Regions from separate parts of the Homo sapiens genome. Here regions 2 and 3 are each linked to region 1. Evidence: fine-mapped expression QTL. A gene starts in region 1. Each other region holds a variant in brackets. All regions are shown on one strand. Distances are between the middles of the regions.

What was found. PIP is the estimated chance that this variant, and not a neighbour inherited with it, causes the effect.
Region 2: its variant is fine-mapped to the expression of VNN1 in whole blood (INTERVAL, PIP above 0.99).
Region 3: its variant is fine-mapped to the expression of VNN1 in whole blood (INTERVAL, PIP above 0.99).

Annotation. Positions count from the first base shown.
Region 1 is chr6:132,707,918-132,718,632 of GRCh38, forward strand. VNN1 (vanin 1) reads right to left here and starts at 6,138. Exons shown (of 7, transcript NM_004666.3): 1 at 5,909-6,138; 2 at 3,792-3,922. The coding sequence starts at 6,118.
Region 2 is chr6:132,733,980-132,744,694 of GRCh38, forward strand. VNN2 (vanin 2) reads right to left here. Exons shown (of 7, transcript NM_004665.6): 7 at 9,891-10,512. The coding sequence ends at 10,321. It also overlaps the pseudogene VNN3P. Among named protein-coding and RNA genes, the nearest start is that of VNN2, 19 kb to the right of the region's middle. The variant C/A (reference allele first, on the strand shown) is at 4,214.
Region 3 is chr6:132,750,953-132,761,667 of GRCh38, forward strand. VNN2 (vanin 2) reads right to left here and starts at 6,952. Exons shown (of 7, transcript NM_004665.6): 1 at 6,719-6,952; 2 at 6,464-6,594; 3 at 4,891-5,083; 4 at 1,509-1,797; 5 at 193-566. The coding sequence starts at 6,931. RefSeq lists an enhancer at 9,299-9,488. The variant A/G (reference allele first, on the strand shown) is at 5,530.

The DNA.
Region 1 (10,715 bases):
ACCTAAAAGAGCATAATTGAATGGTTTGTAATACAAAGGATAAATGCTTGAGGGGATGGAAACCCCATTCTTCATGATGTGATTGTTACCATTGCATGCTTGTGTACAAACATCAAAACATCTCATGTACCCTATAAATATATACATCTACTATGTACCCATGAAAGTTAAAAATAAAATAATTAACAAAAACAGTTGAATAAGTAAATTCATCTTTAAGTTAGGTTATTAGACATAGTTTGTCTCTGAAGAAATATGCAAGCTTTCTTCTATGATGCAATCAAAGTGTCTGAACAAAATTGTACTTCTCTTAGCTGCTCAGAAACTCTTAGAACTATACTTAACATCCAGTTGTAATGAGCAGCTCTTTACCATGATGCCTCATAACAACTGCTTCCTCTATTCATATGGGTTCTAGTTTGTTGTTAGAACTAAAGTATCCTATTTTTAATTATATTAGATATAATTAGAAACTTCAAATCCTTCTGGAACGATATGACATATAAATGCTAAATAAATTAAATAAAAAAGAAAAGTGATGAGAGCCTGTTCCTTTAACGCTCAGTCTAAGAGGTGATGTAGGTCCCAAAAGTTTGGTGAATATGAGAAGAGAAAGCAATCAACTATGTGCATACTTCAAACATACTCAATAAGATGAGATCTGATTCTATGAGAGCAGGGAAGGATATTGAGTCCTCCTTTTCTCTCACATCCTACATCCAGTCTTTCAACAAAACCTGCCAGTGCTACTTTCAAACTTTATTCGGAATCTGTCCACTTCTCAATACCTAAACTTCTACCATTTCTTGGTCTCAGACCCATCATCTCTATGCCATAATGATCACAACAGCTTTTGAACTGCCCTCTGCTTCTTTGGTGACCTATACCCTGGAGTCTATTCTCAACATTGCGCTCCTCCTGCCCTTCTGCCTCCATTTCCTACTTTTCTCCTCTTCTGTCACATCACTGTAACCACACTAACCCTTTTTCTGTTCCATAGGTTAGACACATACTCTGACCACAGGATCTTGGAATTTAGAATTCCTTCAGCCTGGAATGCACTTTTTTCAGATACTCACATGATCTATTGCCTCATTTCTTTCAGGTCTTTGCTGAAATCTCACTGTGATGCCCTCAGACGACCTTTTAAAATTTCAGCCCCACGCTTGCCACCCTATTCACCTTCCCCACTTTATTTTTTCCATAACATTTACTTCCACCTCATATCATAGATAGGTAGACAGATGAAAGATACCTATATAAAGATAGGTAGATAGATAATAGATAGATGATAGATAGATGATAGATAGATAGATAATTATCTTTTTAAAACATTTATTACCTCCCCACACTAGAATATAAATTTCAAGGGGACAGGAATTTTTAATCTGTTTTGTTCACTTCATTGCCCAGAACAATGTTTAGACATAATAGGTACTCAAAAAAAATTTGCAGAGTTAATAAATTAAGGCAGCTGGGCGTGATGACTCATACCTGTAATCCCAGCACTTTGGGAGGCCGAGCAGGTGGATCACTTGAGGCCAGGAGTTCAAGACCAGCCTGGCCAACATGGTGAAACCCATCTCTACTGAAAATACAAAAAACTAGCTGGGTGTTGTGGCTCACACTTGTCATCTTCGGGAGGCTGAGGCACAAGAATTGCTTGGACCTGGGGGATAGAGGTTGCAGTGAGCTGAGATCACGCCACTGCACTCCAGCTTGGGCGACACAGAGTCTCTCTCTCAAAAAAAAAAAAAAGAGAGAGAGAGACAGAGAGAATTAAGGCAAGACATTCAGACATCATTAGTTGATGGAAAACATAAATGGGCAACCGTGTTCCTTGAAATGAAGTGAATGGGACATCCTTGTGGGGATGTTCAGGAGGCCCTTGGAGATGAGGTTCTAGGGAAAGGCCATTCAGAAATAAGTCAATTCAATTCATAGTGGAAGTGATAATAGAGTGCTTGCCTTTTAGAAACTGAAGCACTGACATATGACATGATTAAATAAGAAATAATTATGGTACAATTAAATAAGAATAGAGTAAATGATTATGATAAATAACACTGGAATTTATCAAAATCCACCTTGTCAAAATCAAGGTGTCTCTGTAAGTAGTTTTTGTGGGTTTGTTTGTTTGTTTGTTTTTGAGACAGAGTCTAGCTCTGTTACCCAGGCTGGAGTGCAGTGTCACTCTCTTGGCTCACTGCAACCTCTGCCTCCCAGGTTCAAGCAGTTCTCCCTGCCTCAGCCTTCCAAGTAGCTGGGATTATAGGTGCCCACCACCACGCCCCACTAATTTTTGTATTTTTAGTAGAGATGGGGTTTTGCCAAATTGGCCAGGCTGGTCTCAAACTCCTGACCTCAGGTGATCCTCCTGCCTCGGCCTCCCAAAGTGTTGGAATTACAGGCATGAGTCACCACACCCAGCCAGTTTCTGTGGGATTTTTAATTTTAGTATTATTATTATTATACTTTAAGTTCTGAGATACATGTGCAGAACATGCAGGCTTGTTACATAGGTATACACGTGCCATGGTGGTTTGCTGCACCCACCAACCCATCATCTACATTAGGTATTTCTCCTAATGCCATCCCTCCCTTAGCCCCCGACTCCCCGACAGGCCCCGGTGTGTGATGTTCCCCTCCTTGTGTCCATGTATTCTCGTTGTTCAACTCCCACTTATGAGCGAGAACATGCAGTGTTTTGTTTTCTGTTCCTGTGTTAGTTTGCTGAGAATGATGGTTTCCAGCTTTATCCATGTCCCTGCAAAGGACATGAACTTATCCTTTTTTACAGCTGTGTAGTGTTCTGTGGTATATATGTGCCACATTTTCTTTATCCAGTCTACCATTGATGGGTATTTGGGTTGGTTCCAAGTCTTTGCTATTGTGAACAGTGCTGCAATAAACATATGCATGCATGTGTCTTTATAGTAAAATGATTTATGATCCTTTGGTATATACCCAGTAATGGGATTGGTGGGTCAAATGGTATTTCTGGTTCTAGATCCTTGAGGAATCACCACACTGTCTTCCACAATGGTTGAACTAATTTATACTCCCACCAACAGTGTAAAAGAGTTCCCCTTTCTCCACATCCTCTCCAGCATCTGTTGTTTCCTGACTTTTTAATGATCACCATTCTAACTGGCGTTGTGCGGTTTTGAGAATAGTTCCAAAAGAGGAATTCCTAAAATAATTTTAGCCATGTGTATTCAGAAAGAAGTATGTGAATCGACATGATTTTCTTAGGTGTATAAGATATTGGTTTCCTTACATTAAAATTAATAGTGCTGCTTTCACCACACTTAATATCTCTGTAGCCGAGACCTGACTTAAACCACTTAAAATCCTGCCATATCACCTCTTAGATTACAATCAGCTTACACTTTAAGGACTTTACTACATTAACCTCATCAGCTATCTTAGCAATGAGAAAGGAAAACTATTAATCTTAAACTGATGTGACTCTCTTTTGCCATTTACTCATATAGTTTTCAAATCACAGACCTACACAGGGAAATATTTTTCTGTTCACTGGTGAGGAGTCAGAGACCAGAGATGTTCACACTGAATGTGATGATTTCTAAGCTACTTTCTAGCTCTGACTTCTGTGACTTCATAATTCATATTTGCTCTCCCAGTAAATATACCCATAGTAGATGAAAAATAAGCTATACTGAAACTTAAGAATTGATCATGGATCTATGCAATGATCATCAACAAAGTTTTCCCAGGTAAATCAAGTTGATGTTTACTAGTGAATTTTTCACAAGTTGTTTCTTTACCTGTTACGATTATTACAGGGGATCCAGTTTACTTCAGGGTCTGGGATGTCCTCCAAATATGGGTAGAGAGAGTCCCTGTTGAAGTTCCAGCCATAAATAGCATCTTCTGGAGTCACAATAATATGCGCACCCTGTTAAAAATGCAACTTAATCCAAAGGGGGGCCTGCAAGAGGAGCTGAGGAGCTGAGTGGCTGAGTAACAACTATTTGGGCTTCCCCCACACCCCTTAAATCTTATTTTGTTTTCTATATTTTTATAATTTATTTTCTTTTCCAAAGCATTTTAATTTCCTTTTTTTTCAGTGCACTGTCACTTCTTTTTCTTTTTCTTTTCTTTTCTTTATTTCTAATTTTAGATTCAAAGGGTACAAATGCAGGTTTGTTGCATGGATATGTTACATAATGGTGAGGTTTGGGCTTCTAGTCAAGCATTTTTTTTTCTCTCTTTTTTTTTTTTTTCAGATGGAGTTTCGCTCTGCTGCCCAGGCTGGAGTGCAATGGCTAGATCTCGGCTTACCACAATCTCCACCTCCCGGGTTCAAGCGATTCTCCCGCCTCAGCCTCATAAGTAGCTAGGATCACAGGCATCTGCCACCACGCCTGGCTAATTTTTGTATTTTTAGTAGAGATGGGGTTTCTCCATATTGGTCAGGATGGTCTTGAACTCCCAACCTCAGGTGATCCGCCTGCTTCAGCCTCCCAAAGTGTTGGAATTACAGACATGAGCCACCGCACCTGGCTTAGTCAAGCATTTTAATTTTCTAATCCTGCCATTGTTGTTTCCTATGGCAGTCGTTAACTATAAACCTAGCTTATCCTGGAACCAAGCCTCTCCTTGAACTTTCGCTGATGACTGTGCCTGTGTCAAGACTGATTAATAACTTAAATATTCTGTTTATTTCCTCCTCTGCCCTAGCTTTCCCCTGCAAACATGATTCCTGCTTCTCAGAAAAAGAGGAGCCACAAACTGGTTACTTGAACTGTCCCATGCCTACAAGTACTGCCTGAGCTAACCTGGGCACCTTCCAATTAGAGAGTCACCTTAAAAAGCTCTGTGACCTTCAAGGAAATAGTTGGACTAAGGATGAAAAAGAACATCAGAACTCCTGATAACCTTTTAAATATTAGTATATATAAGAATATAGGGCAGTCACGGTAGCTCATGCCTGTAATCCCAGCACTTTGGGAGCCCAAGGCAGGTGGATCACCTGAGGTCAGGAGTTCAAGTACAGCGTGGGCAACATGGCAAAATCCCATCTCTACAAAAAATACAAAACTTAGCTGGGCACGGTGGCATGCATCTGTGGTCCCAGCTACTCTGGAGACTGTAGTGGGAGAATCACCTGAGCCCGGGAAGTCAAGGCTGCAGTGAGACGTGATCACACCACTATACTCCATCCTGGGTGACAGAGTGAGACCTTAACTCAACAACACAAAAGAATATATATTTATAGATATATGTAATACACATTTATCCATGACTTTTATCACACTTCATGTATTCCTGGTCTACACCTAATCGATCAATAGCTTTTAAAATAATATTTGTGTAAACCACAATTTATACTGTATGATTAACTTCAAACTGAAACCTTCACTAAACTTAAGGACTCACAATGCATTACATATACTTTTATCTTGTAATTAGAATGAAGTGTGAAGTATATAATGCATGCTGGCAAGGAATTGAAAACTTAAATTTGTTTTCAGATTATAAATTTATTCGAAAACCTGCAAAGCCTTAATAGCACATGAGTACATGAAGGCCACTAATACTCTGAAAATAGCACCTAGTCCCTGACCCATTTATCCTCCATCCTCCATCTGTACCAGAAAAGGGGAACAAAGATGTTGAATTTATGGCCAGTTCCTCAAAGGTCTGCTGCTTCTTGATAATGAGCAAATTGTTCTTTTCTTAACTTTGTTCTTACTTTTAGGGAAGTCCTTGCTCTAATTTTGAGAGGAAAGTAGAATTCTAACTGTAAAATAAAGGTTCTTGGCTACTCTGATACATATATCATCTAAAAGTGTAACTGACCCTGACAGTGGCCCTGTCTCCTAGGACCCCCTCCTTTCTCATAGAATCCAGTACACTGGAGAGATGGTAGAGATGGTACCTGATCTGCTGCTGATGTGATCGCTCCTTCCAAAATGTCCAGATTCCGATTCATTAATGCCAAAGCCTCCTCACGAGACACTGGTGTTAGGGTGGCATTGGGCAATATCGCTGCATGCTCATAAACAGCTGCAGTGAAAGTGTCCTGGCAGCTGGCTCTTGAGACATAGAAAAGCAAAATTGCCACGTAAGCTGGCAACTGAGTAGTCATGCTGAAGTCCAATGAGTGCTGAAAAACAGAGCATGTCCTGGTATTTATAGAAAGAAGACACGTGGTGTCCAGAACTTAGTACCTTAAACTACGGAAGTTAATTAAGAAAACGCTATGATTTCATAGCATTGTTACATAACAAAAGACCCTACCTTATTGCAGTAATTTGTGAAGATTAACTCAAGAACTCTATGTACATTAGTTCGCTAGGGCTGCCTAACAAAATACAATAAACTGGGTGGTGTAAAAAATAAAAAATTTATTGCTTTGCAGTTCTGGAGGGTGGGAGTCCCAGATGAAGGTGTCAGCAGAGTTGGTTCCTCCTGAGGGCGGTGAAGGAAAGATGTGTTCCAGGCCTCTCTCCTTGACCCATAGATGGCTGCCTTCTCCCTGTGTCTCTTCATATGCTATTCTCCCCATGTGTGTGCCTGTATCCAAGTTTTCCCTTTTTGTGAGGACACCACTCTAATCTTTAACACAGGGAAAGGGAAAATCCCAGCTCTAGCTTTTTTTGTCATCGTTGTTGTTTGTTTATTGTTGTTGTTGTTTGAGATGGAGTTTCACTCTTGTCACCCAGGCTAGAGTGCAGTGGCGAAATCTCGGCTCACTGCAACCTCCGCCTCTCGGGTTCATGTGATTCTCCTGCCTCAGCCTCCCAAGTAGCTGGGATTACAGGCGCCCGCCACCACGCCAGGCTAATTTTTTGTATTTTTAGTAGAGATAGGGTTTCGCCGTGTTGGGCAGGCTGGTCTCAAATTGCTGACCTCAGGTGATCCACCTGCTTTGTTTTTATGCCAAATAAGGGCAGAAGAAAAAAGCCAACTGAAGGTCATAAACCCAGGGGTACAGGCTCACTGAAAGACTGAGACTCAATCATAGGACCAATTCGATTTAGTGCCCACTGTACTCCAGTATAACTTCATCTTAACTAATTAGATCTGAAATGACCCCTTTTCCAAAAAAGTTACATTCTAAGATACTGACAGTTAGGACTTCAACATATAAATTTTTGGAATTCATATATTTTGGAATGTCAACACAAGACATTCAAATAATTTTAAAACTTTATTATTATTTTCATGTGAATATTTCAGCTCTACACTTTGATTTACTTTATTTTCCTCAAAATGGGGAAGCCAGGACAAAGAGGAATACAAAAGAGTTACTCATTTTCTATTGCTATATAACAAATTATCCCCAAATTCAGCAGCTTCAAAAAGCAAAAATACATCATCTCCCACTTTCTCTGGGTCAGGAATCCAGGGGCAGTTTAGCTGGTGCCTCTGGCCCAAGGTCTCTTTCACAAGGCTGCAGTCAAGCAGCTGCCAGGGCTAGCTATATCAAGGCTTGACTCCAGGAGGATTCACTTCCGAGCTCCAAGCTCCCTCATGTGGCTGACGGCAGGGATCAAGACCTCATTGGTTGTTGCCCAGAGACATGAGTTCCTAGTGATGCAAACCTCACCATAGGGCAGCCCGCATTATGGTATCTGGATTCCCTTAGAGCCAGACAGCAAGTGAACCCACTGGAGATGGAAGCCACGGATGCTTCGTAATGTAATTGGGGAAGCAACACCTCATCGCTTTTGTTGTATTCTATCCAATAAAGCATTAGGAACCATCTTTGAAGCTGCTTATCACAGAGGCAACAGAGGTGTATAAAGAATCAGAGCAAAAAAAAGAAAAAATGAGCTGGGGAGCGAGATCCAGAGAGAGGAGAGGGAAATTATATAAAATAGAAAAACTGTTCATAGATTTTGATATTGAGTAAGCTGGCAAATTTTGTTTCAGTTGTGCATTAAGTATAATATTTACAGAATTAGTGTTTATGTTTTTCCATTTTATTTTTAGATCTATTTGTCTTTGAATGGTATTTTTATAGTTCAATCTGCAAACAGGCATATCTAATTTTTTACTTTAGTAACTATAATGCATTTATTCTGCAATTGCCAAGGTAACCCAGGGGTTGTGGTTGGCTGGTTCTCCTGAGTTTCCGGTAAACACCAGCTTCTCTAACTGCTTGCTGACCTCTTAGGGCCTTTCCATGCCCAGGTGGGTGGGAATACCACATATTTCACAAAAAGATGTCATTATTATGTAACAATTTGTAAAAGGAAGCACTGAAATAAAAGTTAAAACTGAGATGAGTTGGCAAGAGGTTAAAAAATTACTTCTTGACCTTCTTAGATTAAAAATATTAAACCTCCCGTGGAGTTTCTAGTCCAACTCATAAAGAGCTTGGCAGTCATTTTTCCCATGCTCACACCAAGAAAAAAGCTAAACAAATGAAAATCGACAACTTTTCTAGGATGCATCAGAGAATTGAGATCACAGGATAAACTGCGGTCCTCAGAACTGCAGAGATAGGCAGATACAGAGGTTAAGAGTGTACTGCGAGCAGAGTCCTCTGCGGCTGGCGCCAGTACCGTGGGTTCACTTGAACTGTAATTGACGAATTGGTGGAGGCTCAGGGTGGACAACCTTGAGAGTTCTGGTCTGTTCTTCTTAACAAAAGCCTGCCCTCAAAGTAAAGTATTTTACCAGAGCCTAACCTACCTAGGGGAAGGAAAAATGCCAACCCCAGCCACTCTAATCTTTAACTTGGGGAAAGGGAAAATCTCATCTCTAGCTTGTTTTTATGCCAACTAATGGCAGAAGAAAAAAGCCAAGTGAAGTTCATAAACCCAGGGGTACAGGCTCACTAAAAGACTGAGACTAAATCATAGGACCAATAACCTTGTCCCTCCTCCAGCATGTCACTGCCACATGAATCTACCCTTTCTGGCCTACTTAGCATGTACTAGCTGAGAGCAAATCTTCAGATGAAATAATGCAGTTCGGCCAGGCGCGGTGGCTCATGCCTATAATCCCAGCACTTTGTGAGGCCGAGACGGGAGGATCACCAAAGGTCAGGAGTTTGAGATGAGCCTGACCAACATGGAGAAACCCTGTCTCTACTAAAAATACAAAAATTAGCTGGGCATGGAAGGGAGCAGTGTGGGGGGCGGGGGCGCCTATAATCCAGATACTCGGGAGGCTGAAGCAGGAAAATTGCTTGAACCCGGGAGGCGGAGGTTGCCTCGAGCCGAGATTGCGCCATTGCACTCCAGCTTGGTGATAGAGTGAGACTCCGTCTCAAAAAAAAGAAAGAAAGAAAGAAAGAAATAGAAATAGAAACAGTGCAGTTCTTGCAGTAGAGTATCATCAGCAGGACATGGAACTGGGAGGCACCAGCAGCCTCTACTACAACTCCTAGGCTGGTTCTCTGGATCCTTAACCCTACTGCTACAGCCAGCCAAGGTCCCCAAATGCAGCCCTTCTGCTCACACAAAGTAGAAACTGGGAGAATTGTCTCCAAGGAAATGACTTTGAGTGTAGACAAAAGCCCTAATTGATACCTCCAGACTCCTCCAACCAAACTTGCATAGATGGAGCAGATTGCCTTTTGCAAGGAAAACATGACATCGCACTGTCCAGAATAGGGCAAGACCCACAGTATTCTGGATTTTGCTAGCACAGCAGTGATCACCCCACCCCAGGCAGCAGGTCCCCAGAGGAACTCAGAAGCAAGTCCTGCCCAGCTTACGCAGAGAGAACCAGAAACAAGGGAAAAGGAGGGAAGAGCAAGGACTGAGTGGAGTGGGCACTGCCTCTTGCACTTCACCTGGTGAACTCTGAAAAGCCATGTGCACAGCATGTAAAAGTGTGTCCATATACTTGTGTCTGATAAAAGATTGATTGGCAGTCGGCCTCTGCATTGCTACTCAAAATATACGCCCATATTTTAATATTTAGTGGCTACAACACAATGTCAATTCTTTTGTTGACATTAATCTGGTTTTAGGAGAAACAATCCATTTTTCCTCTGGTCTCATAGCACAACAACTAACACAAAAGACTGGTTACTCCCAAGTAGGTGGAGATTTCTCCCCACTAGAAAGCAAGCAATTGACTCTGCATCAGACATCAGCTGGCTATCTTCCAGTTCAATCCAAATACTATTTATCCAAAGATAGCATCAGATCCCACATGTTAAGGGCTCAGTCCCACAAAACCGCCCCCTCCTTCCCACCAGTAACAAGTCTGGGCTTCCAGATCTTCCGACCAAATGGCTCTGGGTTGGGGTTTCCATGACCCCTTTTTTTTTTAGTTCAATTAGTTTGCTAGAGTGGCTCACAGAACTCAGGGAAACACTTACCTTTAGTGGCTTATTGTAAAGGATATTACAAAGGATACAAATGAAGAGGTGCATAGAGCAAGGTATGGGGGAAGGACTGGAGAGCCTTCCACGCACCCCTAGGTGTGCCACCCTCCAGGAACCCTCCACGTGTTCAGCTGTAAGGAAACTCTCCGAACCCTGTCCTTTTGGGTTTTTATGGAAGCTTCATTACATAGTCACGATTGACAACCATGTAGAAATGCGATTGGACAAAAAGGTTATGATCCCATACTAACAGTTTGAGTGGGGAAACCCAGTAAAGCTTGTCTGTTCAGGTTTGTCTTGACATCTCTTTATAGCATTTCTTCCTCTAGGGTATGGGGTGGGACCCTCTCTGAAATGAGGGTCTTTTGAGCCACAATCAGATTATAGTCCTGCC
Region 2 (10,715 bases), 26 kb after region 1:
GGGCTGAAAACCTTCCTGTTGTATACTATGCTGGGTGGTGCAATCATTGTACCCCAATCCTCAGCGTCATGCAATTTGCCCATGTAACAAACCTGCACATGTACTCCCTCAATCTAAGCTAAAAGTTGAAATTACAGGGAAAAAAAAGCATCTACATCCTATGCCACAGATTGACTATTTATCAACACAATTACCAGTCAAATTCAGTGAGTTTACTGTTGGTGTTTTACCAAATCACAACTTTTTGTTTAGAAATTAATGATATGATATTACCTCCAGGGGTCTCTACATGGAATCCAGTTCACTCCAGGGTCTGGTATATCCTCTAGATAGGGGTAAATGCTCTCCCTGGTGAAGATCCAACCATAGATTCCATCTTCTGGGGTCACAATGATATGTGCACCCTGCTCGAAACAAGTGGGGCAAAAAAGTTTGTCATGAATTCCAAATACTCTTTGACCAAACTGCAAGTCTCCTTTACAAGTATAAAAGGGTAATACCTGCTTCGCTGCCAGCTTAACTGCTTTCTCCAAAACATCTATGTTCTTGTTCATCAGGAGCAAAGCTTCTTCTTTTGAAACAGGTGTTTCTGTTCTGTTTGGTAATATCACCGCATGCTCATATACTGCAGCAATAAAAGTGTCCAGTGCACCAACACTCAGAGCAAGGAGGGCAAAAACTGCCACACATTTTGGAAAATGTGATATAATCATAACTAAAATTTAGTGATCTTTGAAAAACAAACTCAGATTCTTACGTTTTGTTTCACTGGAAAAACTTTACATTAAATCCCTCCTGGCAATCAGCTGTTTATATTTTCTTGCACATATATTACACAACACAGCATTGAGAAAGGATGTTGTGCAAGAAAACTGACAGCCAGGACGTAATTGGATTGATTCAAGTGTACAGTGCAGTTGTTGACATTGTTCAGAGTCAAGTCAACACTAAAAGATTGAGCCAACCAGATGAATTCACCCCAGTCCAAAACACACTGGCAGTTGAAGTCTTTTCTAATAAAAAAAAATTTTCCTGGTAAGCCAACATTTCTATTAATAGGGCCAATATTGGAAGGTAGTCATCATAGCAACAATTTGTTGAGCACTCTACTTACATATTTGTATGGCCATTTCTATTTGAAAAGCCCTTGTTCTCCATCCGTCTAAGTTCCAGCTCCCCCTAGAGTCCTCCCAAATCCACTCCAGTCCTAAGTGATATTTCTGAACTCCTATAGCATTTTTTTCTGTGCTGCTGAATGTCTCTCACTCCTTGCTGTTGTCTTGACCTTTAATTTAAATATTATACCAATACTTAATATTATATATGTATGTTTTGTCTTCTTAAAGAGATTAAAAAGAAACTTGCTGTTTTCTTTCAGAACATCCATGTCCAATAAACATCTAGACAGAGATGATGTATCCTGGGATGTGGCCCCTGGAGGGTAAGGGAAGTGTCCTGCTCACTGTTGAACCTCATCACCCCAGCACATGTGTGACAGATGGTGAAAGCTCAATATATGAATGAATGTTGAATGACGGAATCTACTACCTGATGGGCCAGTCTATTCCACCTTTGAACATTGCCAATTTTAAGAACATTCTTGTTATTGAGATGCAATTTACTTTACCTGTCTTCTACAGTTTAAACCCGCTTCCATATGAAGACTAATCAATAATTCAAAAAGTGTTAAGTTCTCCTTTAATTCTTTTATTTTTTAAACATATCATCCTTATAAGTCCCTTAAGGGCAGGGTCACATTATAATTCTCTGCTGCTTCTATAGAATTTTATACTGTGCTAAGCTCTGTAAATGTTTTTTGATTAGTTAAATTCACTTCCCTCGCCCAATTTTGGATTGAATCTCCTTGTTTGAATATCAGTTAATTTAAAATGTAGAATTTTTTTTAAGGTTTAAATCTCTGATTCTAGAACAATTAACACTGCTTCTCCCTCTTGAGATTCTTTCTAAGATCTAAGGAAAATTGTAAGTTATGGAGATTTGTGTCTATTTTGGGTTTGGTTTGTTTCTATAATTCAAAGTCCCTTGGTTTCAATAAACTTTTCCATTATCCAAATATTTCTGCTCCCAGATACCCCACAGTGTTTCCATATGTCCTTATGCCCTGATACCATTTCAGGAAATAAGGACATATGAACATAAATTCAGCCCTAAATTCTGAGTTTATGTCTGACATAAATTGTTTTCATCAGACATCAGACATAAGTTCTTTTCCAAAAAAATTTCTGAGGAGAAGAGGGAAACTATGTAAAACAGATGGATTGATCTGGGATGAGAAGAAAATAATTTTCATATTTCAAGTTGAAATTCTAACTCTTTTCTTGGTTCACCTGACTTTCTGAATAGAATCAAAAGGAAACATATGGGAATTCCCCTTCATTCTCCCAGCCCCTAGTTCCAGGAAATGTACCAGCTTTTTTTGTGTGTTGAAATCAATAGAAACTTGAGTTAAATATTTGATTACCCAATGTTGTTAGTAATGTCTTTGCTTCCTAGGTGTATAAGGCGTGCAGCTATGAGTTATTTGAAACACTGTATTGGTACATAATCCTTATGACAGTCTGGCATTATTGTAGGATTAAGAAGTTTAGAGTCAGAAGTTTTGTATTACAATAAATATAATTCTTCTTTTAAATATGTAAGGGACACATCTTAAAGGAGAGGTGCTGTAATAAAATATCTAAGAGTTTACTGGCTTTCCCCAAATCTTTATTTCTAAACTCATTGTAAAACCTCCTCTCCATTCTCCTTATCAAGTTCCTGACCCCATAAATAAGAATTCTTTCAGGCTCTCCATCAGCCTCTCTGATCCCACTCCTCCCACCCTAACCCTCAATACTGTAATCCATTAGAGTTCCCTTGACCATTGCTGTCATTAATTAAGATACTTCCCATGCATATATTGAATCAAAGCAGACAGTAAGAGCCTTCTTTCTCTTGGTTCCATTTTATATTTTGTGTTCTTAGCTAAAAGTACTCTTCTTATTGTAACATGATCACTGTTGCTCTGATCCTGGAATGATTCTGACCAAATCCTGCCTTTCGAGCTCAAATCCATTGCCTCTCCAGTCTTGTTGCTATTCCCTTCTCTAAACTCTTAATGCACTTATGGCCAGTAGCCACATTGTTGTTCACTGTCTTTCAGTCCCTTACTCTACCCTCTCCCCTGGCCCCAGGTTTTTTTCTACTTCATACCTTCAACTATCTTCTACAAAAGGATAATGACTGTGTCTCTATCTTTAGCTCAAACTTCCGTTCTGAACTTCAGGCCTATTTATCCAACTCAAAAGAACTCCTTTCCACAAGCTCCCACCAAGTATCAACCCACCTGCCAGCCATTTGTACCTGTAAATTCTGCCTCCCCCCATCCTTACTGTAAATGACTCCTCTTGACCCTACTTAAGTCTAGCCCCTATCTTTGAGCACTGGATCCCAAGGACATTGCTCTAGAAGTTCTTCTCTCTTACTTTGTTTATTTTTTTGTTTGTTTGTTTTTGAGACAGGGTCTCACTCTGCCACCCAGGCTGGAGTGTAGTGGTATAATCTTGGCTCACTGCAACCTCCACTTCCCAGGTTCAAAAGATCCTCCTGCCTCAGCCTCCCAAGTATCTGGGATTACAGGCATCTGCCCCCCACACCTGGCTAATTTTTGTATTTTTAGCAGAGATGGAGTTTTATCATGTTGGCCAGGGTGGTCTCAAACTCCTGGCCTCAAGTGATCTGCTCACCTCGGCCTCTCAAAGTGCTGGGATTATAGGCGTGAACCACCAATGCTCGGCCTTTTTTTTTTTTTTTTTGAGATGGAATCTTGCTCCATCACCCAGGCTGGAGTGCAGTGGCCCAATCTTGGCTCACTGCAACCTCCGTCTCCCAGGTTCAAGCAATTCTCCTCCCTCAGCCTCCCGAGTAGCTGGGCTTTCAGGCGCACATCACCATGCCTGGCTGATTTTTGTATTTTCAGTAGAAACAGGGTTTCACCATGTTAGCCAGTCTAGTGTAGAACTCCTGACCTCAAGTGATCCACCCACCTCGGCCTCCCAAAGTGCTGGGATTATAGGCATGAGCCACCGTGCCCAGCCCCATTACTGTTTATCATCAATTTTTCTTTCTCTATTGGATACAATAAAGAAAACACAAATATCCTATTATATATTCTACAACTATCCTGTAACATTTTCTATCTTAAAAAAAAAAG[C/A]CTTTTGATCTGACATCCCCTTCCAATTCCTGCTCCATTTCTCAGCTTTATTTTATAACAAAATTCCTTTCCACGATGGTATGTACTCCTTGCCTCAATTCCTGTCCTCCCAATGGACAGGATTTTACCCCCATGACTTCACTGCCTTGTCCAGTTCCCATTAATCTCCCTATTACTAAGTCTGATGGTCAATTCTCAATGTCATCTTACTCAATGTCTTGGTAGTACTTGACAAAGCTGCCATTATCCCATTCTTAATGTACTTTCTTCTTCACACCCTTTTAGTTTTCCTCTTTCTTTCTTCTTAGTTTTTGTATTTGTTTACTTTGTTTTGTTTCTTTGGACTTTTTCTTCTGGTTTCTACTCATCATCCCTGACTTGGCAACACTGGTGCACCCTGGAGCCCAACCTTTGGAAGTCTTCTGTTCCTATCTACACTCACTTCCTAGGTGATTACATCCATTTCATCTCTTTAAATACCATCTATATATTTAATATTAGTGACTCACAGATTTATATATCTACCTCAAACCTCTCTTGAGAACTCTAGACTCTTATATCTGGCAACAGTCTACTCAAAATCTCCACTTGACTGTATGAAGGCTTATCTGATCAACATGAACAAAACTGAGCTCCTGACCTTCTGCTCCTGATGCTCTTTCACCAGCAGTCTTTCAGATCTCAATTAACGGCTTCTCTCATCTCCCTTTTGTTCCGGCCAAAACCCTTGGAGTCACCCTTACTTCTTTCTGTCTCTCTCACTCTACACACGTTCAAGCAAGTGGTCTTTTACTACACCAACTGTGGTCCAAGCCGTCATTATCACTAGTCTGGATTATTCCCAAACCCTTGCACCTGGTTTTTGTACCACTACTTCTACTTTTGCACAACAACAATCAGAGCCATTCTATCAAAATATAAGACTAATCATATCATTCCTCTGCTCAAAACCTATCAATGGCCTGGGTGCAGTGACTCACACCTGTAATCCCAGCACTTTGGGAAGCCAAGGCGGTCAGATCACCTGAGGTCAGGAGTTTGAGACCAGCCTGACCAACATGGAGAAACCCCGTCTCTACTAAAAATACAAAATTGGCTGAGCACAGTGGCATGCACCTGTAATCCCAGCTACTCAGGAGGCTGAGGCAGGAGAATCACTTGAACCCGGGAGACAGAGGTTGCAGTGAGCCAAGATTGCACCATTGCACTCCAGCCTGGGCAACAAGAGTGAAACTCCATCTCAAAAAACAAACAAACAAATAAACAAACAAAAAAACCTATCAGTGGCATTCGATTTTACTCAGAGTAAAAGGCCAAGTTCTTACAATGCCTAAAAAAACCACTATAAGCTGTCACTTCTAACAATTCCTACTACTTTTCCCATGTTCACTCGGCTCCAGTTGCATTGACTTCTTTGCTGTTCCTCAAGCATGTCCCTGTACTGTCTCCACTACCCTGAGGGGACTGCTGCAACTGGCTCCTTCCTGGCCACTCTGCCTTTAGAACTTCTTTCTCCACTCCATCCTTCAAAAAGCCATCAAATTTATCTAGTTTTTAAACTGTTTAGTCCCTCATGGCTACTTGACTCTAAAACTCTTCAATGTGTCTTTCTCTCAGCTTCTGGATAAAGTCTAGACTTCATTTGTGTTTCAACACTGACTCTGGACTATCTCTCTAGTCTTATTTTTTACATCGTCTGTCCTTATCCTTCCTCCTTGCATCCTCTTCCTCCGTAATACATTAAACACTGCTTGAAGCATACTTCCATGTCTTTGCATGCATGACTAACTCTATTGAGAATGCCCTGATTATCTTATTCTGCTTGTCTGTGACATCCTTCTGGTCTTCCAAGGTAGAATTGATCCATTTCTGGTCCTTGTATTGATCATAGCACTAGCACGCCTCAGCCTCCAAAGTGCTGGGATTACACGCATGAGCCACCATGCCCAGCTAAGTTTTTTTTTTTTTTTATGTGATTGTTAGCTGCATAAATGTCTTCTTTCGAGAAGTGTCTGTTCATGCCCTTTGCCCACTTTTTAATGGGGTTGTTTGTTTTTTTTCTTGTGGAAAAGAAGTTCCTTGTAGATTCTGGATATTGGGCCTTTGTCAGGTGGATAGATTGCAAAATTTTTGTTTAAGTTCCTTGTAGATTCTTGGATATTGAATCTTTGTCAGAAGGATAGATTGCAAAAATTTTCTCCCTTTCTGTAGTTTGTCTGTTCACTCTGATGATAGTTTCATTTGCTGTGCAGAAGCTCTTCAGTTTAATTAGATTCCACTTGTCATTTTTTGCTTTTGTTGCAATTGCTTTTGGTGTTTTTGTCATGAAATCTTTGTTTGTGCCTATGTCCTGAATGATATTGTCTAGATTTTCTTCTAAGGTTTTTATAGTTTTGGGTTTTACATCTAAGTCGTTAATCCATCTTCAGTTAATTTTTGTATAAGGTGTAAGGAAGGGGTCCAGTTTCCATTTTCTGCCTGTGGCTAGCCAGTTTTCCCAGCACCATTTATTAAATAGGGAATACTTTCCCCATTGCTTGTTTTTGTCCAGTTTGTCAAAGATCAGATGGTAGTAGATGTGCAGTATTTTTAAAATTAATTTCTGAAATGCAAAATGAAACAGAACAGGGAAGCAAAGGTTTATAACATAACTGATCAAAGCTTTTAGCAGGGTTGTTCAATCCATATTCAAACAATATAAGATGTCACAGAATTCTTGAAGACAGGTAAATTGAAATTAGTCAGTTCACTCTCATTATTTTTCTCCTTTGACTTAGCTTCACGTGGTCTAGAAATTCTCAAATAAATCGTTGATTTTTTTTTTTTTTTTTGGACACAAGATCTTGCTCTTTTGTCCAGGCTGGAGTGTAGCGGCGTGATCACAGCTCACTGCAGTCTTGACCTCAGAGGCTCAAGTGATCCTCCCACTTCAGCCTCCCGAGTAGCTGAGAACACAGACACACACCACCACACCTGGCTGGCTTTTTGTATTTTTGGTACAGACAGGGTTTTACCATGTTGCTCAGGCTGGTCTTGAACTCCTGAGCTCAAGCAATCCTCCTTCCTCAGCTTCCCAAAGTACCAGGATTACAGGCATGTTTTCTTTCCCATTCCAAGTACTTTCTGTCTTATTTACATACTCAAGAAATCCTCTTCACAGTTGTCCCTGTTTCTTTGTCCAAATGTCTTCTCAGGAATGCTTTCATTGGAAGTAGCTGCGTGTGGCTCAGTGTAAGCATGTGAGTGTGGGTGTGGGTATAATAACCATATTGACCTAAGCAGGCATCCAGCCTCAGATATCTTTTAGAACATTATCACCCATGGACTATCTTGGAATGATGGTCAGAATGGAGTTAGAAATGTAAAAAGAATTTAGGAAAGAGGCCAAAACAGAAAGAATGCTGACAGAAATCACCTGTACAGAGCAATGAGCCAACACTATGAGGACAGGTCAAAATGCAAAGAAAGTAGAAAGTAGGGGCAGTGTAGTTGCAAAGCAGGTTGTGAGCATATCATAGAAATTATGGAAATAGATCATATCAAAGGGGGCAATGTCACAGAGTGGCAAAGGGAGCAAAGAGAATGCATAGACCACTGTCTCAGTACTTAGTGCTTGGGATATAGTAAGTGATCAATGCTTCCTGAATGAATGAAGGAAGGCTAGGTAGTGAGCCCTGAGAGAAGGCTGCTGCTGAGCATGTGACTTTGTAATACAGGGGGCTGTAACCAGGAAGTTGTAAAAGAGCATTTCAGGAAAAAAGCCTAATGAAAGCCAAATAGGAGAAAATAAGAGCTTTGTTTACTATCTCCAGAACCACAAGGGACTCAAGAACTAACATGAAATTTTAGAATGGGATGAGGCCGGGCGCGGTGGCTCACGCCTGTAATTCCAGCACTTTGGGAGGCCGAGGTGGGCGGATCATGAGGTCAGGAGTTCGAGACCATCCTGGCTAACATGGTGAAACCCCGTCTCTACTAAAAATACAAAAATTAGCCAGGCGTGGTGGCGGGCGCCTGTAGTCCCAGCTACTCAGGAGGCTGAGGCAGGAGAATGGCGTGAACCTGGGAGGCGGAGCTTGAAGTGAGCCGAGATCGCACCACTGCACTCCGGCCTGGGCAACAGAGCGAGACTCTATCTCAAAAAATAAATAAATAAATAAGTAAAAATAAAATAAAATGGGATGAAAGATAGTTATCAAAGAAATATAAAGGCCAAATGAAACTATGCTTGGGTTGTTTGATAAAATAAAATGTATGTGAGAAACCACGGTGGAGATGGGTTAAAATGTGGTGCAGGCAATTTTACAGTAGAGCATTAAGTGCTCTTTAATTTCCTTGGCACTTGGTGCTTTCGTTTTTTGTTTTTATTTTTAACAAACTGAGGTACAGCTGAGAGCTCCAAGCTTGAATCAGAACTGTCCCTTTCTGTGAAAGGAGCTCCTTGCTTGTATCTTACTCAAACCAGTTTGTTTAACGTCAGCTGTTGATTTTCAATCAACATCTAAACTTCTGCAAATGAAACGTCATTGCCCAAGAGCCAAAATACATGCTGCAAAACCACTGCACAACATCTAACTTCCTCAAGCAAAACTTGGCAAATTTTAAATGTCCCATACTTTATGAAAAGGAAAAAGAAGCCAGGCATGGTGGCTCATGCCTGTAATCCCAGCACATCGGGAGGCCAAAGTGGGTGGATCACCTGGTCAGGAGTTCGAGACCAGCCTGGCCAACATGGCGAAACTCCATCTCTACTAAAAATACAAAAATTAGCCGGGCATGGTGGTGGGTGCCTGTAATTCCAGCTACTTGGGAGGTTGAGGCAGGAGAAGCACTTGAACCCAGGAGGCGGAGGTTGCAATGAGCTGAACTCCCACCATTGCACTCCAGCTTGGGTGACAGAGTGAGACTCTGTCTCAAAAAAAAAAAAAGAAAAAGAAAAAGAAAAAAGAGCATAAAACTTTGATGATTATATGATTTGGACTATATACACAAATGCACGTTCATTACAGCTTTAAAATTGCCATCTTTGATGTCCCAATGCTGAACATAGGGAATATGTATGCTCTTCTCAAAATTAAATACAAAGTGTGGCTTAACTTCCATATTTCTTCTCTTAATACTAACCACGAGATTATAAAAGGAATCTTACTTTTCTAGTGTATTTTAGTAGAATTTTAAAATCAAATCCATAAGTAGGTTTATGACAATATGTAAAAACAAAAGATAAATGCTTCAATTGTGTTTTTTTATGTAAAAGTATTGAATTTAAAAATACTTTGGGAGATAAAAATCAGAAAATAAATCTGAAAATTCAAAATCAGTTCTTTAATTTTAAGAGTATCTGAATTAAATGATCAATAACAAATATACTAGTTTACTTCAAGTAGCATGGAATATGTGTATTTTGTAAAAAGTCAACCAAATGCTGAAAATAGTGTAACTTTTAACTGTCATGGTCTTTGTGTTATGAGATTTCTGCCTGTTAAATTACGCCATAGCCTTAAGGTGGGACAGCTGGGGCTATGAGTGCCCTGGGTCAGGTCTCCTTTGATATGAACTTGGAATAGCCATCAATTCTTCTAGCACTCAAAACTACGTTCACTGTAGAAATAAATGTCGACATTGCCTTTTGATTGGAAAGTAAATCTCCTGATAAACATTAGCACAGAAAACTAGGTGAATTCAAATAGTCTTTAATGTCAAAGGGAATTCAGTCATAAACCTCTAAATTCCCATCATTACTATTCTCTTCAAGGGCACAGCTATGTTTGCAATGGCCCTGAAACTCCTCACTCCCATACATACAAGTCCCCCATACACACAAAGTCTCAAGCAAATGAGGCTGGAGCTGGAGTTTGATCTTCATTTATCTGACCCAAACACCCAGGCTCTTTCCATTGTTCCACACTGCAACATTTCAGAGTAGCCAAAAAAATGGACAACATTATCATAATACTTAAAAAATAATTATTGATGAGAAAAAATATTTAGGACTCACTGGTCTATACTACTGAAATAGCCCTTCAAAGTTTCTTAGTAAACTTGGGAAGCCGATAAACACATTCAGCCAAGCATATGATGCAGAAGCTGAGTGATAAAGAGACGCCCTATAACATTACAATATTTTGCAAAGCTATGATCATTAATAATATGAATATTAGCAGGTAAGTTATTGCTGAATTGCTGGTCCCACATGAGCTGTAAAGTGAGTCCTTTGTGTACCACCTCCCAAAGAGTGACACTGTTAGTATAGGCCCAGATGATCCATTCTTGTTTACCAAACGCCCATCTTTCAGCACCTAAAGAAAAGGTGGGAAAAGTACAGTCAGCTTTCTTAACATAGAAGTTAAAAGCAAATTAATCATTTTGAAACCATCCTAGATATAATGTATAGTCAAATCATTTCTGATTTAGGAGGATGCAGCAAGTAGGCCAGGCAGGGGACAGCCATTTACTACATAATGAAGACTAGAGCAATTCAAGAGGGCCCAAGATTTTAGTT
Region 3 (10,715 bases), 43 kb after region 1:
TTGTAAATATTTTATCCCAGTGTATGTACGTGCATAAATGCACGTGTGTGTGTGTGTGTTGTGTGTGTGTGTGTTGCCATCAATGCATGGAGTCAAGCCAAGGAAAAGCACCTGGTTTTCTGGAACAAATATAAAAAGTTAACCTGGAATTTACCTTTCACTTGAATGCCCTTTCATTTGAACTGAAATTACCTGCCAGTACTCTCTTCTCCTTCGGCCATGTAATCCTGTAAAAGCTCCTAGAACGTATACTTCATTCTCTTCTTTTTGTAACATTCTGTAGCTTAAATGACAGCAAAGCTCCTTTTGACAGACTGTAAGGTTTCCTGCATTTTCAAAAAGTTCTGTGAAGTTGAACCCATCCCTGGAAATAAATCCCCTGAAAGTGTTTTTCTGTACTGGAAATGGTTTGATGGTGGTGGCGTAGGCATTCCAATTAACAGCTGTTGGGTAGGCAAGCGAGGATAGGGGATGTGAATCCACCTCTGAAAGGAGAAGTTTTCCCAACTCTGTCTTCATGTCATAATGATACACTTTGGGACCATTTGGTGCATAAATACCACTTCCTGTGAATGAAAGACAAGTCTTCTAAAAACAACACCACACACAAAAAAACCAAAACTGCCAATTTCCCCATCAGAATTGGGCATGTGATCACGCCACCATATTAGTCACGATGAGAGAGGATACATGCTTCTAATTGCACTGAACACCTAACTACTTCTATTCTCTAATGGAAGAGATTAAAATAAACATTCCTTGGTCTCATTTCAATTAAACCTTAAATATAATAGCATTATTTATTAGCATTATGGAAAATTAAACCAACTACAAAAATCTTTGTAGTCAGGAGTTCCTGAAAGGTGGGGAAAGGGAATAAAAATTCTCCCCTATTCCTCATTGTGGTGGTTTTCAAATATATCCAAAAATTCCTTAAAATTCTTCTTTCTGGTGGGAGGATCTAATTCCTTTCCCCTTGAAGAGGGGCTGGACTTAGTGACTCACTTCCAATGAATAGAACATGGCAGAAGTGATGGTGGGTAACTAGTCATAAATAGCAATGTGGCTTCTTTCCTTTTCTCTCTTGTCCCCTCTCATTAATTGCTCTAGAGGAAGACAGCAGCCATGTCACGAGGATATGCCATGCAGCCATAGGAGGAGACAAAGGGCAAGATATAGAGGCTTCCATGGCCACTGAGGAAAGTAGTAGCTGGGTAGCATTTGGCAAATTACTTGCACTCTCTGTATGTCAATTTTCTCATCTGCAAAATTGGGATGACACTATCTATCTCATATAATTATTGTAATAATTAAATGAATAATACACATAAAGGTCTTAGTATAACCATAGCTTATAATCAAGTGCTAGCTTTTTTTTTCTATTGTGAAACTATGACAAACACAGTAAGAATTTCCAATAAGCAAAAAATTAATACAAGTCATAACTGAGGCATTCATTTCTCTGCACTTAAAAATATAAGATGAAACCTAACCTGGTCATGAATTACCTGTCATATTTAGGCTGACATGATGTGTGTTGGCCACAAGAAGATTAACTCCCATTCCCATTGCCCAAGCTGAATGGAATTCAATAGCTGTCAAAAGGGGCAAAACGTTCATCCAAGCTGTGGGAAACAGTATGGTGTCCACATGGAAATCTTTCACCAGGGTAACACCAGGATCATAGAAGAATATATCAAAGCACGTGAAAATGCCAAACCTTCCAAATGCGGTGTTGAAAGTCACCAACTCCGGCTTTTCAGGGACATTAAACTGAGGCTCAGAGTACAGGTGGTACTACAACAAATGGATAGGAGAAAACCAGTAAAACCTTATTTGTTGAAGAAATGACTCATAAAAACCCTCTAAGTTGGTAACAGATTTGGCTATGGTCAACTGCAGGGAATCTCCTAGGAAGCGGATAAATCTGGCAATTGGAAGTAAATTTCTAAGGAAAATGTGGAGGAATATGTAACATACGTCCATAGCATCTCTCATCTCCTCTCTCTCCCTTCTCTCTCTTTCCCTCTCTCTCAGTTAAGAGCCAAATACCCCCCCATAAACCCCAAAGTCCGTAAGCTTTTTTTAAATTTAATTTAATTTTATTTTTCTGAGACGGAGCCTCGCTCTATCACCCAGGCTGGAGTGCAGTGGCATGATTTCGGCTCACTGCAATCTCCACCTCCTGAGTTCAAGCGAGTAGCTGGGATTACAGGCACGTGCCACTATGCCCGGCTAATTTTTTCGTATTTTTAGTAGAGTCGGGGTTTCACCGTGTCAGCCAGGATGATCTCAATCTCCTGACCTCATGATCCACCCACCTGGGCCTCCCAAAGTGCTGGGATTACAGGAATGAACCACAGCACCTGGCCCTATAAGCTTCTTAAAAGTTAAAAAACATGCATTATTCTTCTTTGAATCCTTGGTGCCTAGAAACGTAATATTAATAGATGCATAATAAATACCTGTAAGTCAGGTGAGAGATGTCATCTCTCTCTTTAGTGTCCCATCCAAAGTAATCTCAGTGACTCTTGCCCACCTTTCAAAATTACCATAGAAATGTATTTAATTTCCCGATTCCTTCTAGGTAAACTAAAAAAAAACTTAGTCTAATATAATAAATGGAATCAACAGTTAATAAAATGGTCTGCAGTGTAGAAAAAATATCTAAAAAATAGAAAAGAAATTGGGCTTTACTACTATTTTAAGAATTGACAGGCCAGGCAAGGTGGCTCATGCCTGTAATCCAAGCACTTTGGGAGGCCAAGGCAGGCAGATAACTTGAGGCCAGGAGCTCAAGACCAGCCTGGCCAACATGGAGAAACCCCATCTCTACTAAAAAATCCAAAAATTAGCCGGGTGTGGTGGTATGCACCTGTAATCCCAGCTACTCAGGAGGCTGAGGCAGGAGAATGGGTTGAACCTGGGAGTCAGAGGTTGCAGTGAGCTGAGATCGTGCCATTGCACTCCAGCCGGGATGACAGAGCCAGACTCTGCCTAAAAAAAAAAAAAAAAAAAAAAAAAAAGGAATTGATCGACAAAGGTATTCTCATTAGGTTCACATATGTCAGAGGTCATGGGTTACAAACGGTCCCTGAGGTACCCTCAGGGAAGAGTGAGAGCCTTTCAACTTAGACAGGGTGACTGCAGGTTCCTTGCTAGTTTGTCCACATTCAGTGCACTGTGCCATCCTGCATATTTACAGAATGGCAGAATAGCTTCAAATGATTACTGCAAATAAACTGCATTGAAAGATAATACAAATAATGCAAACAATCTCCCAAGCAAGAAAATGGAAGCACTGACCTTTCTATTTTTACTATGAGACACATTTTAAGAAGAAAGTGAAATGCAGTGATATATATGAAAAGAAGCTGTCAAAATCCACAAAATTATGAAGAAAGCATTTTGAAATTGTTGCACTTTATAAATACACACACAAAAATACATATATTGAGGACTTATGTTAACGATTTTTTCCAATAGGGGTCCATGATCGAAATCATTTGAAAACCATTGGTTTAACATCCCTCCTCTTAATTAATATTTATATTTTAACTGAGACTGCCAGGAGATAATTTCTCCACTCCAAAGATTCTGAGGCTACAGTTTAAGATGCTTACAAAATATCTGGGTGTGGAGAAGGGACATTCATACTGCCTGTACATCACACATATCCATTTAAAAGGCCAGGCTTCTTTCTCTACCTAGTTTAGTATAAAATTATGACTTAAAGGTTATTTGATTCCTTTTTTCAATTCAGAATTTAAAGTAAACATTTTATGGTTTGATCTTAAATCTATAAGATGGTAATTAAATTAGCTGGTGTAGAAAATAAGGTATTTTGTGGTTTGATAGCAAATTAACTTATGCAAAGCTGATTCATACAATTTTGAAACATCTTTCTACCATTTCAATATTAAATAGTATTTAGATTATGGCTGTGCTCAGTGGCTCATGCCTCTAATCTCAGCATTTTGGGAGGCCAAGGTGGGAGGACTGCTTGAGGTGAAGAGTTCAAAGACAGCCTGGGCAATGTAGTGAGACTCTGTTTCCAAAAAAATATTTAAAAATTAGCATGGTGGCACATGCCTACAGTCTCAGCTACTTGGGAGGCTGAGGCAGGAGGATCACTAGAGCCCAGGAGTTTGAGGTTAACAGTGAGCCATGATGGCTCCACTGCACTCCAGCCTGGGCAACAGTGAGACCCTGTCTCTAAAAAAATATAAAATTATTGAAACAGTGCCCAGATTATAGTCACCTTAGTATCTTTTTTTATGTTAAAATTATTTGTTTTATATGTGCAAAAAGTTTATCTCAATCCTGGACCATCATGCTACTTTTTTTTTTTTTTAACAGTTCTCTGCCTACATGTTTTTCTGAGTAGTTTTTTACAACGTGTCATTTTCTTTTTTCTTTTTCTTTTTTTTCTTTTTTTTTTTTTGAGAGTCTCCCTCTGTCACCCAGGCTGGAGTGCAGTGACACAATCTCGGCTCACTGCAGCCTCCACCTCCTGGGTTCAAGCAAGTCTCCTGCTTCAGCTCCCACATAGCTGGGACTACAGGCATGTGCCATCACGCCCCGCTAATTTTTGTATTTTTTAGTAGAGACGGGGTTTCACAATGTTGGCCAGACTGGTCTCAAATTCCTGGCCTCAAGTGATCCACCTGCCTCAGCCTCCCAAAGTGCTGGGCTTACAGGCATAAGCCTCCACGCCCAGCCAAAAGTGTCATTTTCTTTATTGCCCACTTTCAAAAAACAAAAAACAAAACAAAACAAAAAAACCCTCTAGTAATATTGTATCATATAGGGAATGAAATTCAAACTCCTAAACCCAGCATTGACCACTCACAACACGCTCCATTTTACACGTCCGTCACTCTCTCTTACCTTATGGTAACGTGCCACGAGTTTTCCTTCTGTATTATACACCACATTGGTATTGTATTGAAAGTAGCCATTAGGAGGACATGTGGAGTCACGGGAATTACATGGCTTTTTGTCCCCCAAATTTGCCAAGACATAGATAGAGTTGTCCTTGGCCAGGCAGCTGAGTCTTGCTTGTACTGGTGTGTGACCAAATCTAAACCAAATTATAATTAAGAAATTTCAATTTTAAAAAAATATTTTAGTCACTTTATATGGAAACGATAGCAACTGTAACCACTTAAGTGGAACTTAAGTTAATACAAAAACTATGCCTAAAAATATCATACTTTAAAAGCCACAGATGATTATACACTTGATGAATGCTTCCCACACGGTATCTATTGCTCCAGAAATTCATTATTCGGTCTCCTGCCTCATCAAGGGTCTCCTCTCTACTGAAACATCCCATCAGCAATGAAATATCCTCTAGTACCTCCCATCTTTAAAAAATAAAATTAAAACCTCTTTTGACCTTTCCAAACATGCCCTTCCAAATATTGCTTTAATCCTCATCTCTCTCTTAAAGCAAAACTCCTCAAAAGATCAGTCCCTCTTGCTGTTGCCAGTTCCTCCTCTCCCATTCCCTTTCAGAGCACTCCA[A/G]CTTGTATCTCTATCACCCAAACTCTTACTAATGCCAGCAGTGACCCCCACATTTTACCTGATCTCATCTTAACTTTTCAACAGCAGTTGGCACAGTTAATTACACCTCCTTCTGGAAACACCTCACTTCTCTATTGGACCCACCCTCTCATTTTCCTATTTATTGGTTGCTCTTCTTCGACTCTTCTGCTGATTCCTCGTTTTCTTCCGAGTCTAAACACTAGAATTTCCTAGTGCTCAAGCCTTATACCTAAACTCTTCTCTAACTCACTCCACAGGTGAACTCATCATGGTGTTTAACACCATCTATATGCTGACATTTGATTTTCTATCTCCAGATATAATTTTGTCTTTTCATGCCAGACTTGTCCATGCAACTGCCACGTTGACACCTCCAGGATGACAGTAGGACCCAGATTTTTAATATATATTAGAAGGTTTCTAGATAACCTTTTCCCAGGAAAATTAGATTTGTGAGCCTAGGAAAATGCAGTTTCAAAGCATAAGGTCTTATGATTCACTTGAAAATACATGGTGAAGTCTTTCTGCCTAAGAAGCAACTCTGGAATGGAGAGACTCTATAACATTGAAAGGGTGTCCCTTCAGCAGAGGCTTTGGAATGTATTCCTAACACAATCCACTGTCTACTTCAGAAATTAAGTTACTACTTGTATCTATGAGATCTCTTCCCTTAGTTTTTCTTGCAGGAATACCCTATTTACACATTTTCTCAAAATTTAATAAAGATTTTCAATCACAAAAGATTGTTAAATAGTATCTAAGTACAATTTTTTAAAATCTGACAAATGTTGAGATAAATATAACCATAACATATACCACATATATGGTAATTCAAGAGCAATCATTTTGCTTTGGTGAACGTGCGCATTTTAGAGAGTTACTTTTGCACAAAAGACTAAGATAGTTAAAATACCTGTGGGGGTCTTGACACGGAATCCAGTTCACCTGAGGGTCTGGGATATCCTCCAGATAAGGGAAAACAGTTTCCCTGGTAAATTTCCATCCATAAAGTGCATCTTCTGGAGTCACAATGATTCGAGCACCCTGTTCAAAACAAGCAAAATAAAAATGATTTTTCCATGTACAACACAGACAATTCAGCTCTCTCGTCTTCCACCAGCTCCCATGCCCCTCGTGTACATTATGATTAACAGAAATAAGAGAATACCTGCTCAGCTGCCTGCTTGATCGCTGTCTCCAGAATGTCTATATTCTCGTTCATGAGATTCAAGGCATCCTCCTGAGAAACTGGTGTTTCTGTTTTATTTGGCAAAATGACAGCATGTTCATACACTGCAGCTATAAAACTGTCCTGAGTACCAACCTGCAGGGTTATTAGGGCAAAAACTGCCACAGAGATTGGAAAAGAGGAAGTGACCATGGCCAAGGTTTAGTGATTTCTGAAAGCAAAAATAACATTCATGTAGTATTTACAGAGGGGAGAATGTTTGCATAACATGTGGCTGCCAGTTACTGGCCTTTTACTTTATCATCATTTTTCTTCTTCTTCTTCTTCTTCTTCTTCTTCTTCTTCTTCTTTTTTTTTTTTTTTTTTTTTTTTGAGGCGGAGTTTGCTCTGTCACCCAGGCTGGAATGCAGTGGCGCAAGCTCAGCTCACTACAACTTCCACCTCCCAGGTTCAAGCGATTGTCCTTCTTCAGTCTCTGAAACAGCTAGGACTACAGGTGCGCGCCACCACGTCCAGCTAATTTTTGTATTTTTAGTAGAGATGGGGTTTCACAATATTGGCCAGGCTGGTCTCAAACTCCTGATCTTGTGATCCATCCACCTCAGCCTCTCAAAGTGCTGGGATTACAGGCGTGAGCCACTGCACTTGGCCTACTTTATAATCTTAAGAACGCAATATATCTGACCACTTTTAAAGAAAGAAAAGTTGCAGTCCATTTAAGACAATCAGAAAGTATTACAGGGATTGAACAGCATGTACTATTAGTACTAAGATTTAATATTGAATTTCCAAAAGACACCCGAATTCAAATATAGAACAATTCCAGCTTTTGTTAATAGAAACTCATAACTAACTCTCGTGTAAAAAAATCACATCCCAACAAATATCTCATTTATTAAATTTAAAAATTGACAACAATTTTTTTGGTTCTGTTGAGTCACTTACATTGTGTTTATTTTTAGACGGGGGGGAAAATATTAAATACTTACTACTAAGAAAATGTAACACAGGACAATATTGATAACAAAATTTACCCAAATCTACACTCTGACTTACTTATTGCTATTAAGGACTGAAAACATGTGCTCCAGAAAAGCAGGATTTTGTGTCTGGTTTGTTCACTGCTGTATAGTTAGTGCCTACAGCAACAATACCCCGAGGCACCTAGGCCAGAGGAGGAATCTCAGCTCAGGGGCCCCAGGCCTCAGGATACTCCGCTTCTTTCCTTCTTTCTCTCTTTCACCCTTCCCTCCCCATCCTCCCCCTACTTCTCCTTCTCCTCCTACTCCTTCTCCTCCTTCTTTTTCCTCCCTCCCCACCCCCTGCTTTGGAGGAAGATGCCAGGGAAGGGGAAGAGTCCAGGATTGGTGATAAAGATCATCTGTGTTGTAATAAGGAGAAGATGTAACTTACATTTTTGTTAGCAGCAAATAACAACAATGAGTTTAAAAACAATGCTAACAGGCCAGGTGCAGTGGCTCATGCCTGTAATCCTAGCACTTTGGGAGGCCGAGGCAGGCAGATCACCTGAGGTCAGGAGTTCAAGACCAGCCTGGCCAACATAGTGGAACCCCCCATCTCTACCAAAAACACAAAAAGTAGCTGGTCGTGGTGGTGGGCGCCTGTAATCCCAGCTACTCGGGAGGCTGAGGCAGGAGAATCGCTGGAACCCAGGAGGCAGAGGCTGCAGTGAGCTGAGATCACACCATTGCGCTCCAGGCTGGGCGACAGAGCGAAACTCCGTCTCAAAAAAAAAAAAAAAAAAAAAAACAATAATAACAACAAATACAGGATGTGATCTCAGATGCCTTCTTAGGACATTCATATTCTCCCTTCCCCAGGCCCAATCCTGCCAAATAAAGGATTTGTTTTATTTTTATCCAGCCCTTTGGTAAAAGTCACGGAAATGCTTTTAGACAGCATAGAAGAGTAGGTACGATTAAACAAAGTTTATTCTGTGCTTTCCTTCTTACTGAGATAAATGTTTTGTTAAGAATGGGGCCTAGGGGCTATAAATAAGATCTGCTCATATTTTCTGCTTTGAATAGAAGTTTCTATTAAAGGAATAACTTTTCTTATCTCTATAGAGCAGAAAACTAAAAATAATTCAGGAAAAATGGTCAAGCCCTTTTGTGGAAAATGTAAAGGGATAGATATTTTTATGAATTTTTAGCAGATTGTATAATAGACTGTTAGTATATAACCATACTATCTAGTGTATAATTAGTAAATTAGCATAGGTGATTGGTATATAATAGATTATGAGTGCTGTTAGAGTTTAGAAATCATGTAACCCAAATGCCCACTTATTACAGGATAGGAATCTGAGGCATAGAGAGCTAGAGCGACAGAGCAGGATGTTCGCTTCTCATTCCTGATTCCAGAGTCTTTCCTTTATACCTAAAACAGCACATGTGTCTGTGCTCTCTTTTAATGTCTGCAACTGAGTGTCTGAACACTCGTGTCTTTTGGGGTTTTTTTGTTTTTTGTTTTTTTGTTTTGAGACAGAGTCTTGCTCTATTGCTCAGGCTGGAGTGCAGTGGTATGATCATGGCTCACTTCAGCCTCCACCTCCCAGGCTCAAGTGATCCTTCCACCTCAGCCTCGCTAGTAGCTGGAACACCAGGTACGCACCAACATGTCAGGCTAATTTTTGTTATTTTTTGTAGAGAGGAAGTTTCACCATGTTGCCCAGGCTTGTTTCAAACTCCCGAGCTCAAGCAATCCACCCACCTTGGCTTCTGAAAGTGCTGAGATTATAGGTGTCAGTCACTGCAGCCAGTCATTCATGTCTTTTAAAGAACCCAATTCAAAATGATCACCTTAAGAAGACCATAGGCAAATTTGCTAAGTGCTAATGAAATTTCTGATGCAGTTGATGCCTAATAAAAACAATTAAGCTCTTCCATCTCCATAAGTACAATTTGGGCCATGACCTACCTTCATTGATCTAGTATCACCAATTAGTAATACTTAATTAACTCTTTTGCTTTTAAGTAGTCAGGTAAGCTGATGAGGAGGAGTTAACAGTTTTATAATTTTGGCAGTAGAAGTGGGGACAATCATATCTGTTATTGTGTTCCCAAATCTGGATGTTTTTCTCTGTCCTTGGCTGTAAAAGATAGAAATGATGTTGATCAGAGTTTTGGATTTTTTGTTTGGCTAACAGGGAAAGGGAAAATCACTTCTGATATAAAATCAAGATGACTAAATTCCCTCCTTTGTTTTTTTATTTGAAGCATCTAAAAATTGTCTCATTGAAACTGAGAATTTGAGTAACAAAGGTAATTGCAAAAAAGAATTAGAAGTTAGTAAATGAAGGAGCAATTTAAATATAGGAAAATCCCTGAGATGTGAAGAAAATATTTGCTGTAGAGGTCATTGATATTGTTTTAAATCTTCAGAAGTAAAAAACCAAATTCAGGACATACAGTTTCAATAGTTGACTTTTCATAAAGATGATTGATCAGGTAAAGATTAAAATTTTTAGTTTAACTGAATTATAAAATAAAGTAAGGTTATTTTGCCACAGGGAACATTGATTAATTGTAATTCGTTGCTAAAAGAGCCTACTTCCTAATTTGCCATTTTGGGATTAATGAACTTAGCTAAAGGGGTAAAAAGTTAAAATCAATTAAAAATTATTTGGTCAAAGAGTCACCATAAAAAAAAAAAAAACAGTATTGGGGTGGGCGCAGTGACTCATGGTTGTAATCCCTGCACTTTGGGAGGCCGAGGCGGGCGAATTATTTGAGGTCAGGAGTTCGAGCCCAGCCTGGCCGACATAGTGAAAGCCAGTCTCTACTAAAAATACAAAAACTAGCTGGGCATGGTGGCAGACGCCTGTAATCCCAGCTACTCAGGAGGCTGAGGCGGGAGAATTGCTTGAACCCAGGAGGAGGAGGTTGCAGTGAGCCGAGATAGCACCATTGCACTCCAGCCTGCGTGACAGAGTGAGACTCTGTCTCAAAAATAA